Regions from separate parts of the Homo sapiens genome. Here regions 1, 2 and 3 are each linked to region 4. Evidence: fine-mapped expression QTL. A gene starts in region 4. Each other region holds a variant in brackets. All regions are shown on one strand. Distances are between the middles of the regions. Region 1 overlaps EGLN3 (egl-9 family hypoxia inducible factor 3). Region 2 overlaps NPAS3 (neuronal PAS domain protein 3). Region 3 overlaps LOC102724945 (a long non-coding RNA gene). Region 4 holds the start of EGLN3 (egl-9 family hypoxia inducible factor 3).

The links. PIP is the estimated chance that this variant, and not a neighbour inherited with it, causes the effect.
Region 1: its variant is the best candidate, but not a certain one, in a credible set for the expression of EGLN3 in whole blood (INTERVAL, PIP 0.87).
Region 2: its variant is the best candidate, but not a certain one, in a credible set for the expression of EGLN3 in whole blood (INTERVAL, PIP 0.71).
Region 3: its variant is the best candidate, but not a certain one, in a credible set for the expression of EGLN3 in whole blood (INTERVAL, PIP 0.81).

The regions. Positions count from the first base shown.
Region 1 is chr14:33,922,614-33,927,766 of GRCh38, forward strand. EGLN3 (egl-9 family hypoxia inducible factor 3) reads right to left here. Exons shown (of 5, transcript NM_022073.4): 4 at 4,347-4,420; 5 at 1,614-3,309. The coding sequence ends at 3,278. Among named protein-coding and RNA genes, the nearest start is that of EGLN3, 26 kb to the right of the region's middle. The variant C/T (reference allele first, on the strand shown) is at 2,914.
Region 2 is chr14:33,698,545-33,703,697 of GRCh38, forward strand. The region is part of intron 6 of NPAS3 (neuronal PAS domain protein 3); the gene reads left to right. Among named protein-coding and RNA genes, the nearest start is that of SNORA89, 7.8 kb to the right of the region's middle. The variant G/T (reference allele first, on the strand shown) is at 2,318.
Region 3 is chr14:34,006,118-34,011,270 of GRCh38, forward strand. All of the region lies in intron 5 of LOC102724945 (a long non-coding RNA gene), which reads right to left. Among named protein-coding and RNA genes, the nearest start is that of EGLN3-AS1, 31 kb to the right of the region's middle. The variant G/C (reference allele first, on the strand shown) is at 2,274.
Region 4 is chr14:33,948,294-33,953,446 of GRCh38, forward strand. It overlaps EGLN3 (egl-9 family hypoxia inducible factor 3), which reads right to left and starts at 2,781. Exons shown (of 5, transcript NM_022073.4): 1 at 2,103-2,781. The coding sequence starts at 2,459. RefSeq lists an enhancer at 2,549-2,718 and a silencer at 2,839-2,918.

The DNA of each region.
Region 1 (5,153 bases), 26 kb before region 4:
ATCCAACAGAGTTCAACTATAGACAGCTTCATTTGAAAAGTTTATTTCCTCTGGGCACGGTGGCTCACGCCTGTAATCCCAACACTTTGGGAGGCCGAGGCAGGTGGATCACGAGGTCAGGAGTTTGAGACCAGCCTGGCCAAGATAGCGAAACCCCGTCTCTACTAAAAATACAAAAATTAGCCGGGTGTGGTGGCGGGCATCTGTAATCCCAGCTACTCGGTAGGACGAGGCAAAGAACTGCTTGAACTCGGGAATCAGAGGTTACAGTCAGCAAAGACGGCGCCACTGCACTCCAGCCTGCGTGACAGAGCAAGACTCTGTGTCAAAAAAGAAAAGTTTATTTCTATTCTGTTCTAACAATACTTTCTAACCACCTTACTAACCAACTCTTCATGCCATTCAAAAGATTCAAGACTGTAGCTAAGTCAATGTTGTATCGTTTTAAAAAATAACTTTACTAAGAATATCCCTTCTGCTTGTCCTCGTAGTCGATCAAATATATAAGTACCTGACATATCCAAACTCCTATCTTATATAAACTGCTGGCCCAGCATGGCATTTCCCATCATTGCTTTCTAAAACACAGGAAATTTCAGTACTGAATGGCCAAAAGAAATTAGGACGACCCAGCCTCTAAAAAACCTGAGTTAAAGAAAAACAAAATCATGTCTGAATGGATAATTCATGATTCTGACAGTCCAGCATTTAATGGTATTAACTACTCTACTAAGGATCTATCTAATGCACTTAGGTAAGACTTTTTATTTCCATGAAATTGGATCTTTGGTTCAAAATTTAATCTCCTACCAAGAACTCTGGACTATATAAGTGACATAATGGTGAGGTAGGCTCTTAATATTTCATTGCCGGGAATATAAATGAAATTGATCAGATTATTTGCCAAATAATGTTTCTTTAGCAGGGCTAACTCCTCCCCTAAATGGGCTGTCAAAGAGAGGAGCAAAAAACAGACTCCTAGCATTAAAGTTGTATTTTCCAGCTTAATTTTCCAGGACTCAAATTGAGTCATTAAAAAAAAAAAAAAAAAAAAATCAGTGCACATAAAAAAAGTGGTTTGTTAGCTTATAGGACCTTTGTCTGGAAGGAATAAACAAAGCCTTGGAGGTCAGATCTTTTGGCATATTGACTAAAATGAAAAATACAAGACATGCTTTTGGAACTATATGATCCTCCTTCAGAATATTGTCACTATCATTCTTATGACATTAGAAATCATGAAAAATATATAACTACAATTTTACAGAATACAAAATTCCTAATAAACTTCGTCCTTTCTTTCCTATTGAAATTTTTCAAGATTGTTCGAAAGGGGAATTCACTCTGTCCTATCTGAGACTAATGTTATTTTACTAATGTTGTTTCTAGGATATGGAAGGGCAAAATATAATTTGTTCAATTTTCAGATTCATAGTGGTCAGTGAATGACCTATTCATGGGTATACAAATACGAAGCAACACTATGACCAAAGCGTTCTAAAACTCTTAGCGTAAATGTGTAAGTCAACAATGTTAAAAAGATGTGTGTAAAAATTCTAGCAAGCCCTTCCTGCCAAAGATGGAATATATTAATCAAACCATTAGAATGCTAATGTAGGAGACTGAGTTTATTCAACAAGTATTTACTGAGCCCTTACTATGTTCCCGGCACTATTTTAGGTGCTGAGAGTATGTTGCATTGGTTAAAAATATACAAAATTCCTGTCTTCATTGTGCTTACACTCCAGAGAAAGGATACAAGACAATAAACATAATAAGTGAATAAATTACATAGTAATTTAGAAGGTGATAACTATTACCGTACAACAAAATAGAGCAGTCGTTGAGAATTAATGGTGACATGTCTTATCTGGAAATTTTCCAAAACCAGAAGAGGAAAAAGTAAACTTCTATCTTGGAAGACTATATATATATATATCCGTACATAACAAAGGAAAATATTTCTGGCTCTTTAATGTTCATGGGATTTTCAAGCAAGAAATTAAAGGGATTTTTAAAACATGAAAGTAATACTGAAAACTAGGAAAAGTAGCTTTTGCAAAATACGTGCTCAATACCAAGTTATTGAGGCAGTGCGATCTGTGCTTACTGCAGGAGTAGAAGCTTCCACAGTTCTAGCAAATTCCATGATTCTGGTCATACTGCCAACCACAGTGGATCTAGAGAGCCAAGTGAGCTGAAGAAAGACTGCTAGGGACAGACGAGAACTCAAATAGCTTTGAGATTTTTTTATTTCCACTTCCTTTTTTAAAATACATCACCTTGCTTTTTTTGTGTTAAAGGGTGAGCTCATTAAAAAGGAAAACTAAAAAAAAAAAAAAAAAAAAAACAGGAACACCCACATTTCCAACTCCACCTCCCCTCTCAAATTGTTCAAGATGCACACATGTTTATTGTATATCAGTAGACCTAGCTCTTTCCACAGTTATCAGTGGTTAACACAAAACTACCAGGGATATATTTTTCCTTTCATTTAAATTTAAATTCCATTCCAACAAAGCAACCAAAACAACTAATGTCTAGTTTTTTAGCTTCTGGGGAATTAGGTTCCCAGGTAAGAACTGAAAATGGAGAAAAAATTGTGTTGCCATCTTTATTCAGAAAGTCATTATTTTCAGCAAAATGGGGCTGAGGCAGAAAATCCAGGTTGCAGGACTGGGAAAAAAGGAGTGTCTGCCCCATGGGACACTTATAAATTGTTCACTATGACAGCAGCCCTTTCTAGAGGTATTAATGTCATTAGGTTGTGATAATTCTCCAGAAACCCCAACAGCCCTGGATTAAGAACATCTGGAAATTGTTCAGATGACACAAATTTCTCTGTTTCCTGCTGTTAAGGCTTCCGTGATGCCTCTCTGTGGCATCTACCACCTCCATTTTTTTCTTTTCAAA[C/T]CTCCTCCTTTCAAATCAGGAAGTATACATAAAGTGCAAGTAAGGTTCATTCCCTCGCTGTGCTCCTAGGCTCTTCTCTTGATAGTATTACCGAATCTATCAGGTAAACCGCTGGCCGAGTAGGATGTCTGCAGGAATTTCTGGAGTTAGCAAGTAACTTCATCTGGCAAAGAGAGTATCTGAAGATCAACACAGTCTTGGCAAGAAAACATGAAGTACCACACACAAGACAGGGATGTGAAGGATGCAAGAAGTAGCAGGGAGATTGTTGTCACTGAAGAGGCCATCTTTGGATCTCAAAGAATTTAAGAGAATTCAGGAACCGTTACTAAAATGAACAAGGCCAGCAGATTTCAGAGCACGGTCAGTCTTCAGTGAGGGCAGATTCAGTTTTCCCTGGGTTGGGGACAGAAAGGAGAATAAAGAGGGTATGGAGTCAGCTCTGATGAGTTTTATGTCACAAATGTCACCAAAAAGCCTCCAGTAAACACTTCCCATCTTATATAAGCCTCCTAATAGAGCTCTGCCAAAGGATTCTCTCTTGACTTTGCAATGGGATCTTTCCCATATGCCTCACAGACTGTGGAGGAACTTTGGGTTTACATCCAGCATTGGCACCTCTTGGGCTAATGCTGAGCATAAGTTGTATGAAGTGTAGCCTCACTCACATATCAGAGTTAAGCAGTGTAGGCCATCTGGAAGAGAAAACAAACTGAGATTTCCTGGGTGCAATTTGGAGACCACTTTGGTATTTGAGAGGTATACAGTCCAAATGGGTTATGGGCTAGGCAATATTATATATGTTTCCTTACTGCAGGATCTCTTAGCGCCTTAATTTAATATGCTAGTGAGCAATGTGACTCTTTTTAAGACAGGCATACAGCATGCAACATTTCCCACATTTTTGGGACCAGGAATTTACCAAATTGGCAGGATTTGTGTTTTAATGCAACGTATTTTGGGAAATGCTGCCTTCTAATACTGGTTGGAAGGGATAGGAGTAGTGCTGTTATATTCAGTTTATATTACATGAGCCCTGCTGTTATACTGAGAGTCACAGTCTCACCCAATATAATAAATTTTGCCATCATAACTGGGTTCCATTATATTTCCTTTGCAATATGCCAAAAATCATGGGCAAAATTTAATGTTACATTTGACTGGTTAACATTAATAGGAAAAAGTTAACTATTTCCCATCTATCATAAACCATCATACATTCAGTGGGCATTCTCAGGGGAAGCCCCTTGCATTGTTTCTGATTTTTCTAAGAGCCCTAAGGCCAAGGTTTCAGGATAAAACCCATCAAGATGTCATTATATATAAAGCTAAGCCGTAACAGATTGAACAGAACATGTTTAAAACTACATAAAATTGAATAAAAGTCAAGGATTAACTTGATCAAAAGTCACAGAAAATTATCAAACACATACTAGTTAAATTCCTGAATTTCTTTTTGGCTTCTGCCCTTTCTTCAGCATCAAAGTACCAGACAGTCATAGCATATCTGTGAAAGATAAGCAGATATAAGGAAAGAGATTTAATGGTACTACTAGAAACACAAATGTCCTATAAATCTCACATTAAAAGTTTTAAAGTTTTCTCTATTATTAGAAGTCTACCCTGATTTATTTATTTATTTATTTATTTATTTATTTATTTATTTTTTGAGATGGAGTCTTGCTCTGTTGCCAGGCAGAGGCGTGATCTCGGCTCACTGCAACCTCCACTTCCCAGGTTCAAGCGATTCTCCTGCCTCAGCTTCCCAAGTAGCTGGGACTACAGGTGCACGCTACCACACCCAGCTAATTTTTAAATTTTTAGTAGAGATGGGGTTTCACCATGTTGGCCAGGATGGTCTCGATCTCTTGACCTGCCCACCTCGGCCTCCCAAAGTGCTGGGATTGCAGGTGTGAGCCACCATGCCCGGCCTGTCTACGCTGATTTTAATTTAAAATTAACTTCTCTGGTTTTAATTCTATTTCAATGTAATAAAATGCATAAGGAATTCCAGGTATGTGCCAGAAATTATCTTGGGCATTAGGAATTCAAATGACCCTGTGATCAGATCTTCCTCTGCGATCTCAGGCTCCAAGTAGGGGAGACAGGTGATTTTGCAATAATGCAACAGGTAAACATAGCCTCTACAGAAAGGACTAGAAGGGAGTCATTCTGCTAAAGACTGGGAGACCCAAGTTGGTGGCGAGAACATAGAGAAGAGATGACATTTGAGTGAAGCT
Region 2 (5,153 bases), 250 kb before region 4:
GAAGATAAATCACATTTTTGGAACTTAAACACTTTCTCATCATTCCACATCCACCTTGCTCTTTAGGTCATTCTGAATTAGTAATACCCTCCCCTAAACGTTAGCTTTAAAAGCCCCTGACATACTTCCCTTCCTCAGACAGGTTTCACAAAGGAAACTGAAATATTCCAGCAGAATTCCCTATTTAAAATAATCCTTTGCACAAAGAATATTTATAAGAATCTCCATTGTAATTTTCAATTGAATTGATCTATAGTTAATCAATAGTGGAGACTTGGCTAAATAAAGGATGAAGGTAAACCATGGGCCAAAATATCATGCTGCCATTTAAAAGAATGCTGAGGATGTACATGTCCAGATATGGAACCCAGTTTTCAAGCTATCCAGCAGAAAAGGGAAAGGGGCAGAACACATATTGGTTGCTGTCATTTATGTACCAAGTGAAAGCAGGTACAGCCACATGTGCTGGCATGTGGACAAGAATCTCTGCAGGGACACATAGGAAACACAGAGGTGGCCTGTGAGACAGACCCTAGGAAATCTCAGGTGAGAGTTGGGAGGAAGGCTTGTTCTCGCTGTATACCCTTCTGTGCTGTTTTAACGTTTCAAAAAAAAACATGTGCATGTGTTAACTTTCATTTTAACGTTTTTAATTGCTAGAAAATATCAAACATTTAAAAGCTGGAATAATAAATCATTTTAAAATAAATATCATTAATTAAAACCAACCAATTAAGTAAAAGGGAAATAATTTTCTTAATTATATTTTTATATCACGGTGGATCCTTTTGTGATGAAAACAACCCTGCTAAATTGTAAATTTGCGTTGGCAATAGATCTGTTTTTCTGAAACCGAAGCGCACTCTCTGAGTAAGTTCTGGGAGCTCAGGAAAAATTATTTGCACGGAATCACCAAGCAGTTAGCTCCTCCAGCCTTGAAGACAGAAAGGGCGCCAGGAAAGTGGCTGCATTCGTGGAAGAGGAGAAAAGCGAATCAGAATGCAGCCCTGTAACCTCTGGCAACAAATAGTACTCAATGTGAAATGGGCACTAATAGAACATTCAATGCTGAAACCCTTTGCCTCGGCCAGAGTAATTAGAACTGTAATTCAGATTTGGGATTTTTCTCCAAGGTTTCACAGCTTATGAAGTCAGCAGAACAGGGTTATTAAATCATAGCCCAGTACCAAGTCAAAGACATTTTTTTTTAAATGTAGAAGACAGGGAAAATGCAAGCAGCAGCTGAGCAGTCCTGTGGGTGAGGCGATGAACCCGTACACGGCACAGCTAATGACCTGTTTTAGGGGCACAGCTCATATATTCCAAATAACAGGGGGGAAAGAATTCCAAATAGCTTAACATCATTAAACCCAAAATGCTATTGGATCCTTCCTCTGTGGCATCATAAAATACCCTATCCAAGTGGAGAAGGGATATGCTTACTGTAAATCATGGAAAGTTTATGCCACCCCAGATGCAAACTTCATACTAACTTGTTCCCTCTGGGGAAGGTTCATGGGTTTGCTTTGTTTGGGGGTTTGGCTTGTTTTTTTAAAAGCAATAATAGTCTTTGTAGGATGGCTGCCGTGTCAGCATTTATCTTGAAACTCATGGATATGAGTTCTGACTGGAGTCACCTCTCTGACAAGTGTTATTGCGACTGTGTTTTATATCCCTGTTCAGAATGGTTTCTGATGATAATGCTCTGTCTACCTCGCTGCTTCACACTAAATTATAGATGCCACGATGACAGGGCAAACTGCATCCGAGCACAGAGCTCAACTCCCTTTGTGTGATGTCAGTGCCTCCACCCTCCTGTGCCTGGAATTAAAAATGGGGAGCGAAAATATGCAAAACATTTGTGCTTAAAAATAATGTTCTGTCAGTTATTAAACAAGTGATATTTCATTTAATCAGCTCAAGGGATTATTTTAAATGAAAAGGCAGAGAGGATGATTTTATTAACACATTCCTGCCCTAGAGTCCTACGGTAATAATTCTTTACCTGCCTAAATTAAAAAGTTATAATTCAGTCTGTCTACAGGAAGAAGTTCTGGGTGATTGGATTTTATTCGTTCTTTGATTTTTAGTTGCTCACAAATGGAGGTAAAGGCTGAAAAGCTTATCCTATAGCAGTGAGGATGTTTTAGCTAGTTAATAAATCACCCCTTCTCTAGATAGTGATTGCGTCCAGGACTTATAAAGCAAGTGTGCTTCTGAACACAGTATTTTATTGAAATGGGGTTGGTCTGACCAATCCACGTATAAATTTGAACTTCCCTGCAATTCATTCCACCACACGTTTAAACCCAGTGTG[G/T]AAGATTTCGCTACTATCCAAAATATGTTTCTTAATGTTGTTTAATTGTCAAGTACAGATAAAGCACCATGTAGGTTCTGGAGGAAAAAGAGATACAAATGAATACAATTACATTCCTGACTTTAGTGGAGCTTATAGGCTAGTAGGAGAAGCACGCATGTGAACAAAGAATTTAAGGGCGTCCGTGAAACAAAGGGGAGAGGAGAGGAGAATGAAGTAGCTGATTTGTGGGTTCCATTACCTACCCTGTCCTAGTGCAAGGAAGCATCAGCACTCTAATACCTTTCATGAATATGGTGCTGCACAGCCTACCAAGTATTTTCAAATACATGCTCATGTTTGTCCATCTGAGTTCCATAACAACCCTGTGAGGTTAGGACTGTCTTTTTTATTTCCATTTTACAAATGAGAAAACTTCAAAAACAGAGAAATGCATAACTTTGCCTGATCATTGATCTCATGGTTTAAACCTGAACTTCAAAGTCTGTCCTTATTAAAGCATAGATTGTTAACCTGCAGGTCTGTTTGGCCATCCCATATTGAGAGGAACACTATATGCAAAACTGCGTATGGATGTGAGTCATTGTTCTTGAAAAAGGGATTTGCTCAAATTCTCAGAGTGGACCCTGGCTCCAAAAGACAGTGGGAATTACTGTTTCAGTAGAATCCTTCATTAGTTTTTAGATCCTTGGCTTTTCATTAATGTCACTAATTTGTTTTAATTTTTTCTAGAGAGTGGGGAAAATGTTATAACAATTTTGGTTTGCTTCATATTTAGACACAGTTCCACTCCCAGCCACCTTTTGTCTTACAATTTCTACACAGGAGTATTTAGAGCAACTCTTTAAAGGCCTGTTCCTTCACTCATTCATTCATTTATCCATTTAACAACTTTTTGAGTATTTCCAGTGTTCGTACTGAATCAGTCTCTGCCCATGAGGTACAATTTGTGATTAGGTCATTGGTTCATTTGTTTATTTAACCCAAATTCTGTGTGCAGAGATATCTACCAAATGCTTTGGAGGCTACAAAGATGAATAAGAAATGGTATCTGCCCTCAGGGATCTTACAATCTAGCAAGAGATGGATGTAGAACCAACTATATAGGAAGCAAAACTAAACTGAGATGCTGTGGTAGAAAAAAAGTAGATTGTCAAACTGTTCAGCCTTCTAGAGAAGATGCAAGATAAAAACTGGAGAACTTTCTGGAAAAGTGCCTAAAAGGAGTATTTTCAGTTCCTTTCAGAAGTAACTCTCTAGAGAGGCTGTCCTCTGTTCCATGTTAATTGTGATGCTCTTTCAAATTCTCTTTAAACATGCAAATGGTATTGGTCATCCAGTTATTGCTCTCACCCAGTATCAATAGTTATCCCTGTCCCTTGGACAGAATTATCTTGGCTATGTAAGAAGGGAATTCAGCCAAAAATGCAATTGGTGGGAGAGTGGCTTTCTATTGCATTTGGAACATACTCCTATCATTTTCAGTCATTTTCAGTGCTTTTGATGGATCTCTCCAGTTGGAAAGAACTCAAAACCAATTTCAGTGCAGATGCAAATAATCCTAACAAATTATTCTATAAATATACCACAAATAGCAATACTTTGTGAGGTTAATAGCTCTTACTTATCAAATAAGGGAACTGAAAAACAGAAGTTGGGTCCATGTGAGGAAAGTGGATTGACTCTGAATCCAGAGACCTGTTTCATGGTCGACATGACTTTTCTATGTATAACCTAGAAGAACACTAACATTCAATGGATTGACTCATAATTACAGGGGTTATCTTTTTAAGAGTAACTTATCATTTGTCTGGCTCCTGTTCTAGATATGTATGTGGAACCTGAAGGGGAGAGGGTGGGAGGGCAAGAAGATAGAGACCTCATCTAACCCACATTAGACAAGGAGTGAGAATAGAATCAGCTCCCTGAATGGCAAACTTGTGTTACAACCACTCTTGTCAGTAAGGATTGAGGGAGCTGGGGGTGCGAGTTGATGTACATTCTCTTCTTTGAAAATAAGCCCTAGGTTGATCATTCTGGGTGTGAAATATCCACCTGACAATTTCCACTTAAGCTAGAAGATATAAGCCACATTATATGGCTTTATGTATATATATCAAACTTTCCAATTGAATTAGGACTTTTAGTTTAATACAGCAGATAATGAAATGCAAACTCCATCCTGAGTCAATATATTTCCTTTGGAAATCGCATTAGTTGGAGGTGGGGTGGGGGAAGAGGATTGGGGCAGAAGAATTCCTGTACTGTTTAATGTAGAACTTGCAAAATTATAGTCAAAAGATACATGTTCTAATGAATAGCGTTATGATATTAAATTACCCTTGGCTGGGAGCAGTGGCTTATTCCCATGATCCAATCACTTTTGGAGGGTGAGGTGGGATTGCCAGAGGCCAGGAGTTTAAGACTAGCCTGTGCCACACAGTGAGACCCCCCATTTCTACAAAAAAAAAATTTTGAAAACATTTTTCAGGCTTAGTGGCATGTACCTATAGTCCCAGACACTTGAGAGGCTGAGGCAGAAGGATTGCCTAAGCCTGGAAAGTTGAGGCTACAGTGAGCCATGATCATACTGCTGCACTTCAGCTTGGGCGACAGAGCAAGACCCTGTCTCTTAAATAAATCATTGACTCATTCATTTATTCATTTATTCTCATAAGTCTTAATTTTTCCAGGATCAGGGGACTTGCTTTCTAGGTTAAGAAAATTCTGGTTTTAAATTTTAATGTTATCATTTATAATGGTTAAAATCTACAACTATCATGAATGGGAGGCAATAATACATGATGATAAAATTAACAACAACAATAATAATAGC
Region 3 (5,153 bases), 58 kb after region 4:
GGAGACATGGCAAAATGTTACTAATTGTTCTGCTAGGTGATATGTGTGTGGAAGTTATACTATTATTTTTACATTGTTTGGAAATACCCATAATAAAAAGTTTAGAACATAAAAAGGAAAAAAATACCATTAGTTATTAAACTACATACTTAAAGCCAGGGAGGAAGGACTGAGGGTTTGTAACCAAAGAAGTAAAAACGAGGTGCTTTTTTGTGAACAGAGGCAGCTTTCCTCCATCATTTTCTGCCTGAGGCACTGGTTTCTAGTCATTAATTTATTAAACATTAGTTAGAAACTACTTGGAGTGAGCCCCTAGGGGAGATAAAAAAATGAAGGATAAGACACCCCCTCCACCCTCAAAGAGTAAGAGTCTAGGAGCAGAGAAAGTATGCAGATTCCATAGTTGCACTCTGGAGCCAGACCACCTGGGTTCCGATTCCAGCTATGACACATACTAGGTGTTTATCCGTACCAGTTATTTAAGCTTTGTGTGAATACTAAGTGGATTTATCTTGTAGGCTGTCATAATCATTAAATGAACTAATGTAAGAAAAGTTCTTAAAATTAGTACTTTGTTTATATTTTAAAAAAAAAAGCAATATACAAAAAACACAGTGAAAGTTTTTCTAGAAAGAGATTTTGATATAATCCCAGTGGGGAGAATTCATTCCAGGATTCAGGGCACAATGTGAGCAAAGATTCAGAGAGTAAAGCATAAAGAGCGCTTTGGAAATAGCAACTAATCCATTGCAGTTAAGACTTTTGGGTCTGTTAAAAGGAGTGCTGAGAACTGAAACCAGAAAGGCAAGATGGGCCCGGATTACCCAAAGGGCCAAGAATACCAAGCCAAAGAGCTGTGGCTCTGTCCTGCACGCGCTAGAGGACCACCAAGAGTGTTTGAGCCAGGGAGAAGCATGAATGTTGGAGAAACACTAATTATTCCCTGTGTTTTAAATAATCACTGTGTTCATAGCAAGTGCCAGACATTGTGGGCAAAATGGTCCCTGCCCTCATGGAAGCTTCAGGTTAGAGGAGGAAGGAGATGTTAAATAACCGAACGAATAAGAGTTGTGAAGGAAAAGTGCAGAGTGTTCTGAGAGCTCGTAAGACACCTTAACGTAGATGGAGGGGTGAGGAAGTCAGGCTGAAGAGGTGACACCGGGCTGAGATGTAAAGATATGCAGGAGTGGGCCGAGTGGGCTGGAGAGAAGAGTTTGCTGGGCAGAAGAACAGGACGAGCATAGGCTCTGTGGCAAGAGGGGAAATGACACTCCAAACCTTCTGGGAAAAGGCCAGTGGAGGTAGAACCAGGGGCCTGGGAGATTGTGGTTTGAGATAAGAAAGTGTTAGGCAGGGTTAAATTACCCACCACCTTGGCCACACTGATTGAGCCAGGTATCAACACCTGGCCAAAAGACAGGCTCCTTTAGACTCCTCCGCCAGGTCATCATAAGGTGACCTCGAGTGACACCAGATAGTTATTGCCAGAACCAATCAATGCCTCTCTCTTGGGGAGTTTGAACGTGAAATAGACAGGGAGAAAAAGACTCAGGAATAGAGAAAAACAGACTGACAGATAAATAGAATACAGTGGCAATGCAGAAACAGACATAACATGAACCCTGTAGGCGATATTAAGGATCTTGGTCTTTATGTCAAGCACAAATACCGGTAAGAAATGATGGGGACTGAAAGAGGATTACAGAAGCAGAAATGAAGAAGAGGGGGTGGTAGTTTCAAAAATATGTCCATAAGGACACTTCTCACTTAATTCCTTCTTTTTGAGTGTAGGCTAGACTTAGCTGTTTCCTTTTAACAAACAGAATATGGTAAAAGTAATAGTGTGTGACTTCCAAGATTAGGTTCTAAAGAGGACTGCAGCTACCACCCTGAGCACATACGTTCTCCCCCAACCCACTCCTCCTCCTCTCCCACTACCCCTCCCCAAGTGGGGAAAGTAAACTGTCATGTGGTGAGAAGCCCTGTAGAGAAGTCCATGGTGAGGAACTGAAGCCTCCAGCCAATAGCCAGGAAGGAACTGAGATCTGCTTACAACAATGAGTGATTTTTTTTCTTTAATTTCCATGTTAATTTTAGATTCAGAGAGTACATGTGCAGGTTTGTTACAAGGATATTTTGCTTGGTGCTGAGGTTCGGGCTTCTACTAGTCGTGTCACCCAAATAGTAAACATAGTACCTAATAGAAAGTTTTCCAGCCCTTACCCCCCAAACTTTGAAGTCCCCAGCGTCTATTGTTGCCATCTTATGTCTGC[G/C]TGTAGCCAAGATTTAGCTCCCACTTATGAGTGAGGACATGAGATAATTGGTTTTCTGTTTCTATGTTAATTCGCTTAGGATAATGGCCTCCAGCCACATCCGTGTTGCTGCAAAGGACATAATTTCATTCTTTTTATGGCTGTGTAGTTTTCCATGATGTATATATACCATATTTTCTTCATCTCATCAGCCATTGATGGGCACCTAGGTTGATTCCATGTCTTTGCTATTGTGAACAGTGCCAAGATGAACATACGAGTGCATACGTCTTTTTGGTAGAACGATTTATTTTCTTTGGGGTGTATACCCAGTAATGGGATTGCACGGTTGAATGGTAGTTTAGTTTTAAGTTCTGTGAGAAAACTCCAAACTGCTTTCCACAGTGGCTGAAGTAATTTATGTTCCCACTCTGCAGCCTCACCAGAATCTGCTGGGTTTTGTTTTTTTTTTACTTTTTTATAATAGCCATTCTGGCTAACGTGAGATGGTATCTCATCGTGGTTTTGATTTGCATTTATCTGGTAATTAGTGATGGTGAGCATTTTTTCATATTTTTTGGCCACTTGTATGTCTTCTTTAGAGAAGTGTCTGCTCATGACCTTTGCTCACTTTTTTTTTTTTTTTTAATTAAACAGGGTCTTGCTCTGTTATCCAGACTGGAATGCAGTGGTATGATCATGGCTCACTGCAACCTCAAACTCCCGATTTGCCCACTTTTTAATGGAGTTATTTATTCCTTGTTGATTTGTTTAAGTTCTTCACAGATTCTGGATATTAATTCTTTGTCAGATGCATAGTATATGAATATTTTCTTCCATTCTATAGATTCTCTATTTACTCTGTTGATGGGTTATTTTGCTATGCAGAAGCTTTAGTTTAATTAGGTCCCACTTGTCAATTTTTGGTTCTGTTGCAATTGCTTTTGAGAACTTGGTCATAAATTCCTTGCCAAGGCCATTGTCCAGAAGAGTATTTCTTAGGTTTTCTTCTAGGATTTTAATAGTTTGAGGTCTTACAAAGTCTTTAATTCATTTGAGTTAATTTTTGTATATGGTGAAACATAAGGGTCCAGTATCATTCTTCTGCATGTGGCTAGCCAGTTTTCCCAGCACTATTTCTTGACTAGGAGTCCTTTCCTCATTGCTTTTTCTTGTGGACTTTGTTGAAGATCCATTGGTTGCAGGTATGCTGCATTATTTCTGCCTTCTTTATTCTGATCCATTGGTCTATGTCTCTATTTTTCTACCAGCACCATGCTGTTTTGGTTACTGTGGCCTTGTAGTGTAGTTTAAAGTTGAATAATGTGATGCTGCTGGCTTTGTTCTTTTCATTTAGGATTGCTTTGGCTATCTGGGCTCTTTTTGTTGTTGTTCCCTATGAATTTTAAAATAGTTTTTAAAATTTTTAAAATAATATTAGAGATAGGGTCTTGCCATGTTGCCCAGGCTGGTCTTAAACTCCTGGGCTCAAGCAATCCACTCACCTCAGCCTCCCAAAGTGCTGAGATTACAGGCATGAGCCACCCGGCCTGGCCAGTTTTTCTAATTCTATAAAAAATGGCATTGATCATGAGTGATCTTAAAAGTGGTTCTCCATCCGTAGTCAACCTTTAAGATGACTGCAGCCCCAGATAACAACTTGCCTACAACTTCATGAGAGATCAGCTAAGCTAAGCCACTCTCAGATTCCCAGCCTTCACAACCTGTATGAAATAATGGACATATTTTAAGCTGCCAAGTTTTGGCACAATTTGCTATGCACATTGCGTAATGAACACAGAGAGAGATGAATGAAATTCATATTATATAGGTGGAATTGCCAGGACTTTGTGATCATAGCTATTGGGTATAGAGTTGCAAAAGAAGTAAAAAGAATCCCGAGCTTTGGACTGGCTCACTGAGGTTCTATTTTTAGAGAAGGGGTTGGAACACGGGAGGAAGAATTTTGCGGAGAAAGAAAATAATTTCCATTTTGAACTCATTAAATTCGAGAGGCTGATGAGATTTTCAGGTGAATATGTCCCCTGGAGATTTGAAAATATGGCAGGGTGTTAGAGTGGAGAGGGCTGTATGGATAGATATCACTGGGGTAGAGGAGAACCATGGCAGTGGAGGGTATTTCCAAGGAGAACAAGGAGATAATAAAGGCAGATGAAGGACAAACAGCAAGAATTAGATATATTTTTGGTCCCAAAAGTGGAAAAAGAGAAGTAATGCTAAAAAAAAAAAAAAAAAAGAAAAACGGTAAAAACTCTAACGAGAGTTTTGATAAGAAGATATTCAACAGTATCAAAAACTATAGAAAGAGATCCCTATGTCTGGAAAGTTTGGCCTCACATTATACATCTGCATATTAGATTATCTATAAATCTCCTAGTTGGGGTAAGTCAACACTGGCTGCACAGATTAAATCAAATTTCAAGAGCTACAATGCAAAAAACAAGAACTGAATTGTGGTCACCCCAGCAAAGCACTGGCCACCATGTGAAGCTCCCCACAGGTGGTCTATGTGTCTTTTTACAATACTCCTCTCAAATTACAACAGAAGGGACGCTCATGGTTCTCTCTAGACAACCTGCTCGTTTTAGAACGGGGGTTTTTCAAGTTGCAAAATATGGAGACCTTCTCGTTTACTCCAGGATAAAGATACTTAGGAGGCTTGAGGAAGCAAAGAAAATGGTTTCTGGGGCTACATGTGAGGCCTCATGGAGAACTGGAACGTGGTTCAGGATGAAGCAGCAGTTTCTCCAGCAGCCTGCCATTTCTGAAGCATCTCCTCCACTGAGTCCTTTCTCTACTTGCTGCTTCTTCTTAATCTTCTGCTAGCAGATGCCTTTCTATGCCTCCATTCATATCCTCTTCTACTGAAGTCATTACTTG
Region 4 (5,153 bases):
CTAAGGAGACTTCTGTATACAAGCAAAGCACACTTAAAAAAAATTTAACTACACTAGTTGTTTGCTCAAGCCTGGTTTGCATTTGGTTCTAATTGGCCAGGGAATATTCCAATCGAAAGGTGATTTATCTAAAGGGCAGGGAGCTTTGTGACAAACCAGCCAAAGTAAACCTGGAAATCTGGGGGTGGGACAGGATAAATTTTATTTTCAATTCACGATCACCTTCTGACAGGGTCACCTGGAAAGTTTTTCATTCCACCCAAAAGATAACCTAAAATTGATGAATCATATCTACAGGATCTTTCTTTCCCTTACCCTAACTTACACAGTGTTTTTCCTTCCATTTGAGTTAAATTCTAGTCTGAAACCCTATCCCTATCCATTAAGTCAAAGCTAAATAAAAATATTTAACTTTCAATGTTAGTGGCCTCTTTCCATACCAATTAATCCTGACCTCCCTCAGAGCAAATTCTGCTCCTAGAATGATGAAGAAAAACTCCTAACACCTAAATTTACAAGAAACATTTAAAAACCCAATAAGAAGCCGTCTGCTCTTCCAGGTAGAAACTACCAGCATCTCAGCAACACTGAGGCTGACCCTTCCCCTCCCCGACACACCTCCACCACAGAAGACAGCAAGGTCATTTAATGCAAAAATCAAACTAGTCAAAGACGAGTGACTAATCCACCACCAACATGATGGAAGAAGAATAAAGAAACACTTTAGCATCAATCTCCTACAGAGTTCAGCTCACGCGGAATTTTTTTCCCCAAAGTAAAATTTAGAAAGCAGTATCTTCTAAGATTTACTTTACTTGGGTGCATTAATAACGATGCTTTCAGATATTCTATTCATGGCCTCTTGGCTTGGAAGTTGTACGGCAAACTGTGACTCCCCACTGCACTCATCCACCTCCACCCCTTCACTCCCACACGTTTCCAATCCTCACCACTTAGCCTTTATTCAGAGTGTTCCTCTCAGCGTATTAGAGAAATGAGAGAACAATGGTCTGTTCTGAGACAGGATCAGTCTTGAGACTGATTTGAGAAATACTATATTTATTGTCAAAGAGTGGTACATAGGTGAGTGTTCATCTTCCCTCTCATGCCGGTATACTCTGCTTCGCTGTTTCAGTAAAAGTTTTCCGTAGTTCTGAACGTCCCTTGACCACACCATAAGACAAGCGCAAGTCACTCAGAATTGCCACTGGAAAACTGGCTCAACTATCATTTGAGGAAAGACTGAGAAAGCCTATCCCAAAGTAATGGACATGCACCAACATCGCGGTACCTACATGTTCCCGTTTTTCTGCCAATCTACCTGTGTTTCCAAGATAAATTACCACCCAGGGAGTCACTTCCTGCTATGTGAACAAAAACCCGGTTTCTTTCTGGAGGTGCTTGACTACTCTCTCGTGAGCACTTAACTGGTTGTTTTGAGTGGACTTTGCCATCAATTCATAGTTAGGAAAAGGAAGGTGGTGGTGCAGGGCTCAGCATCAGGAGAGAATTTTCAGTCAAGAAGATGGTCTAACAATGTGCTGGGTCCCAGGGGGCAGAAGCAGCATTCAGAAGTGGAGTTTTACCCTTTCACACCTGCCCAACTCCACAAACCAACTGCCACATGGCAAAATCACAACTGCCTCCAGAATTCTGAGTGCTTTTGTAGAAATCTCTTCTGACCACAATGAAGGGCAGTATTAGGTGGCTTTAAAGTAGGCATTTAAGATCATGAGGACACGTGTGTCTCAGATGATACACAGTGTTTCCAATACCCTTTCCCTCCTTTGGATCTTTGAGAACCTCGTCTTAAAATCGGACCACAGCCACAGCTTGTCTGGCTTTTGTCACCCACAAGAGCCAATATTTCAAAGTCAACAGAAGGTCATCATCATGGTTCACCTGAGCCCCTTAACGTTGACTTTCGCTCAGAGGAGCTGGGGCGAGGGGTGGGGGGAAGCAGCGAGTAGAGACAAACCAGGCTGACTTCTTGGTTAAAAAACAAAGTTCGCTTACGGCCCTGGGAAGTCGACATACAACGGACTCCGAGTGCCTCCCGTCCCCGCGGGAGCAGCTGCGGCAGGGCGCCGAGCGCGTCCTACCTTAGACCTCTCCTTGACGTAGTATTTGCCCAGCCGGCTCCCGCAGTAGAGGACCAGCCTGTCGATGAGGGACAGGAGGAAGCTGATGGCCTCGCAGCCCTCCTCGTTGCCCCCGATCCACGTGATCTGGTCGCCCCGCAGGTGTCGCTTGGAGACGCCGGCGCGCGGCCCCGCCAGCTGGCCGTCCCGCAGGGCCCCGGTGCAGTGCAGCTGCTTGACGCGCTCCAGGACGCAGTCGCCCACCACCTCGCCCAGGAAGTTGTCCAGGTAGCAGAAGCCCACCTCGTGCAGACAGGGCACGATGTACTCCAGGGCAATTTTCTCCAGGTCCAGCCTCATGATGTGTCCCAGGGGCATCTCGCCCGCAGAATCGAGGTCCGGGATCCCCAGCGTGCAACCAGAGAGGGAACGATCTACACGAGCGCGAAGCCGAGGCGCGGGGAGCGTGGCCCGGGGTTCAGAAACCTGCGGCTGCCACGGTACCCGAGCCGCTGCAGCGTCGGGGACAAGGGAAAGTTTCTCGCAACTCTCGGGAGAAGGGATCTGCCTTCGGGAACCAGCGGGAGTGGTGCGGAGCTCCACGACCCGTTTCCGGACTGGCCCGGCGAGCAGTGCGGCGCAAGGAGTCGGAGGGCGCCTTTTGGGGATGGGAAGCCACCACTGCCGCGACTGCGGCCAGACTCCGGGAGACGCTGAGGTCCGGCCCTTAAGCCGGCCGACTCCGCGCGTCACGGGCTCCGCCCCGGGACCGCCTCCGGGACCGCCCTTTCCCCCGCCCCGCTGCCAGTCACCCCCGCCTGCTCTGCCCCTCCGCGAAGGATCCCAGAGAGCCCGGCGCCAACCTTAGTTGTTTGTGACCAGGGGAGCGGCTGGAAAGCAGACTGAATTTTTAGAATGCGCTGGATTTGCATATTGTTTTGCATAAAATCACATAACAAACTTGAAAACCTGGATCCCACACTGAAAATGTAAATAGAATTAACTGCCACATTCTGGGTTGGTCACCTCATAGACTTTTGAGCAAAATAATAACCCCAAAAACGAATATATTTATTAAGCAGTGGTCTTGTTCTACCTTTACCGGGTGTCTTTCCTTATTTACCCCATTCCTCTGCTGTTTGACCCAGTTCAAGCCACTGAGAGATTAGGAGGTATCTAGTTTTAACTAAAATTAATGCATTAACGAATATTTCCCTCAGCCCCTACTGTGTGCAAGGCACTATGTGCTTGAGGAGCTGGGGATGAGCACAATGAAGAAATGCTGAGTCATATCTGATTGAACTCTGCAAATGGTGTATTTTGCTTTGCTTGATGTTTTCCTCTACTTACCTTTCAAGCTTCCTATTAAAATATGATGTTCCGAAATTCTACCTTCCAAATTAATCACATGCTTCTGTAACAGTCAGAGGTATGTCCCCCAAAAGATACACTGTATTCTAGGTCTCTCACTTTTCCCACAAGCAGCTGTACTTTCACAAGAGGGACAGACACCACTGAGAAGACTTTGGTTATCTACAGATAAGCTGATTTGCTTTATGGAGTTTTGATTCCCTTTCCTACTGAACACCAGCGATCAGAATCAGGAAAAAATTCATAAATTGCATGCAAAGCTATTTGTACTTCTTTAAAAAAAAAAAAAAAGGAACTGTATTTTTTTTATTTATTTATTCTGAGACGGAGTTTTGCTCTTGTTGCCTGGGCTGGAGTGCAGTGGTGTGATCTCTGCTCACCACAACCTCCGCATCCCAGGTTCAAGCAATTCTCCTGCCTCAGGCTCCCAAGTAGCTGGGATTACAGGCGCCCGCCACCATGCCTGGCTAATTTTGTATTTTTAGTAGAGGTGAGGTTTCTCCACATTGGTCAGACTGGTCTCGAACTCCCGACCTCAGGTGATCCGCCCGCCTCGCCCTCCCAAAGTGCTCGGATTACAGGCGTGAGCCACCGTGCCCGGCCTATTTGCACCTTTTTTACTTCATATGAGTGCACACTTGGGTTCTTCATTTAAGTTGAAGAAAAGAATGTACAGGTTTTTCGGGTATTGTTTATTGTGGAAGCAAATTTCTACAGCTTTTTCACTTTTCTTCTTCCTCCAGCAGCCCTCTCCTCTCTGCCTCTGAGGGGAGAAAGGGAATGACATCCAGGACAAGAACAAAGAATAGAAGAGGAAAGGTGCTGCTACAAGTTGGAAAGAAGCAGACAGAGGCACGTGGTTGAGTAAGAACCTGGGGGATGGTGAAGGAGAGCAGTCAATGGTGGAGTGCTTAAGAAACTTTGATGAAACTTCTAGTTATATTGAGAGAGGTTCTCTGCCAAGTCAGTGATTAGTTGGCACCTTTGGTATTACCTTTGAGCAGGAGGTACCCCTCCTTGGGGTAAAGGCCATCACTGCTCAAAGAGCTCTTGTCTAAATTCCCAAGGCAGCTCCATGATGAGAGGAGACCATCATCCTTGGAACCCCAGTGTTTAGCACATAGTGAATGGCTAATAAATAGTTACTGGGAACTCAATGTCTGACCCTGAGCCATAGCAGCCTCCACTTGGGATTCAGTATGTCTGGGCTTATCTGGAAGGATCTATTTGCAAAAGGGGCTGGGGAGCCTCCCCAAAGAGAAGTCACTGGAAAAGAGTCAAGCAAATTAGCCTGACCCAGCACAAAAGCTTAGAGGCCAGTGGAGGGAGAACTTAGGAGTTCTACAGGGCATTTGTCTCTCAGCTTTGTCTATCTGAGCAGTGGACATTTGAGTGGTGGGAGCCAGAGACATAAAGTGAAAACTGGAGGACTGTTAAATTGCAGCAAAGGGCCAGGCACAGTGGCTCACACCTGTAATCCCAGCACTTTGGGAGGCCGAGGTGGGCAGATCACCTGAGGTCAGGAGTTTGAGACCAGCCTGGCCAACGTGGTGAAACCCCGCCTCAACTAAAAATACAAAAATTAGCCACACATGGTGGCAGGCATCTGTAATCCCAGCTACTCGGGAGGCTGAGGCAAGAGAATCACTTGAACCCAGCAGGTGGAGGTTGCAGTGAGCTGAGATTATGCCACTGCACTCT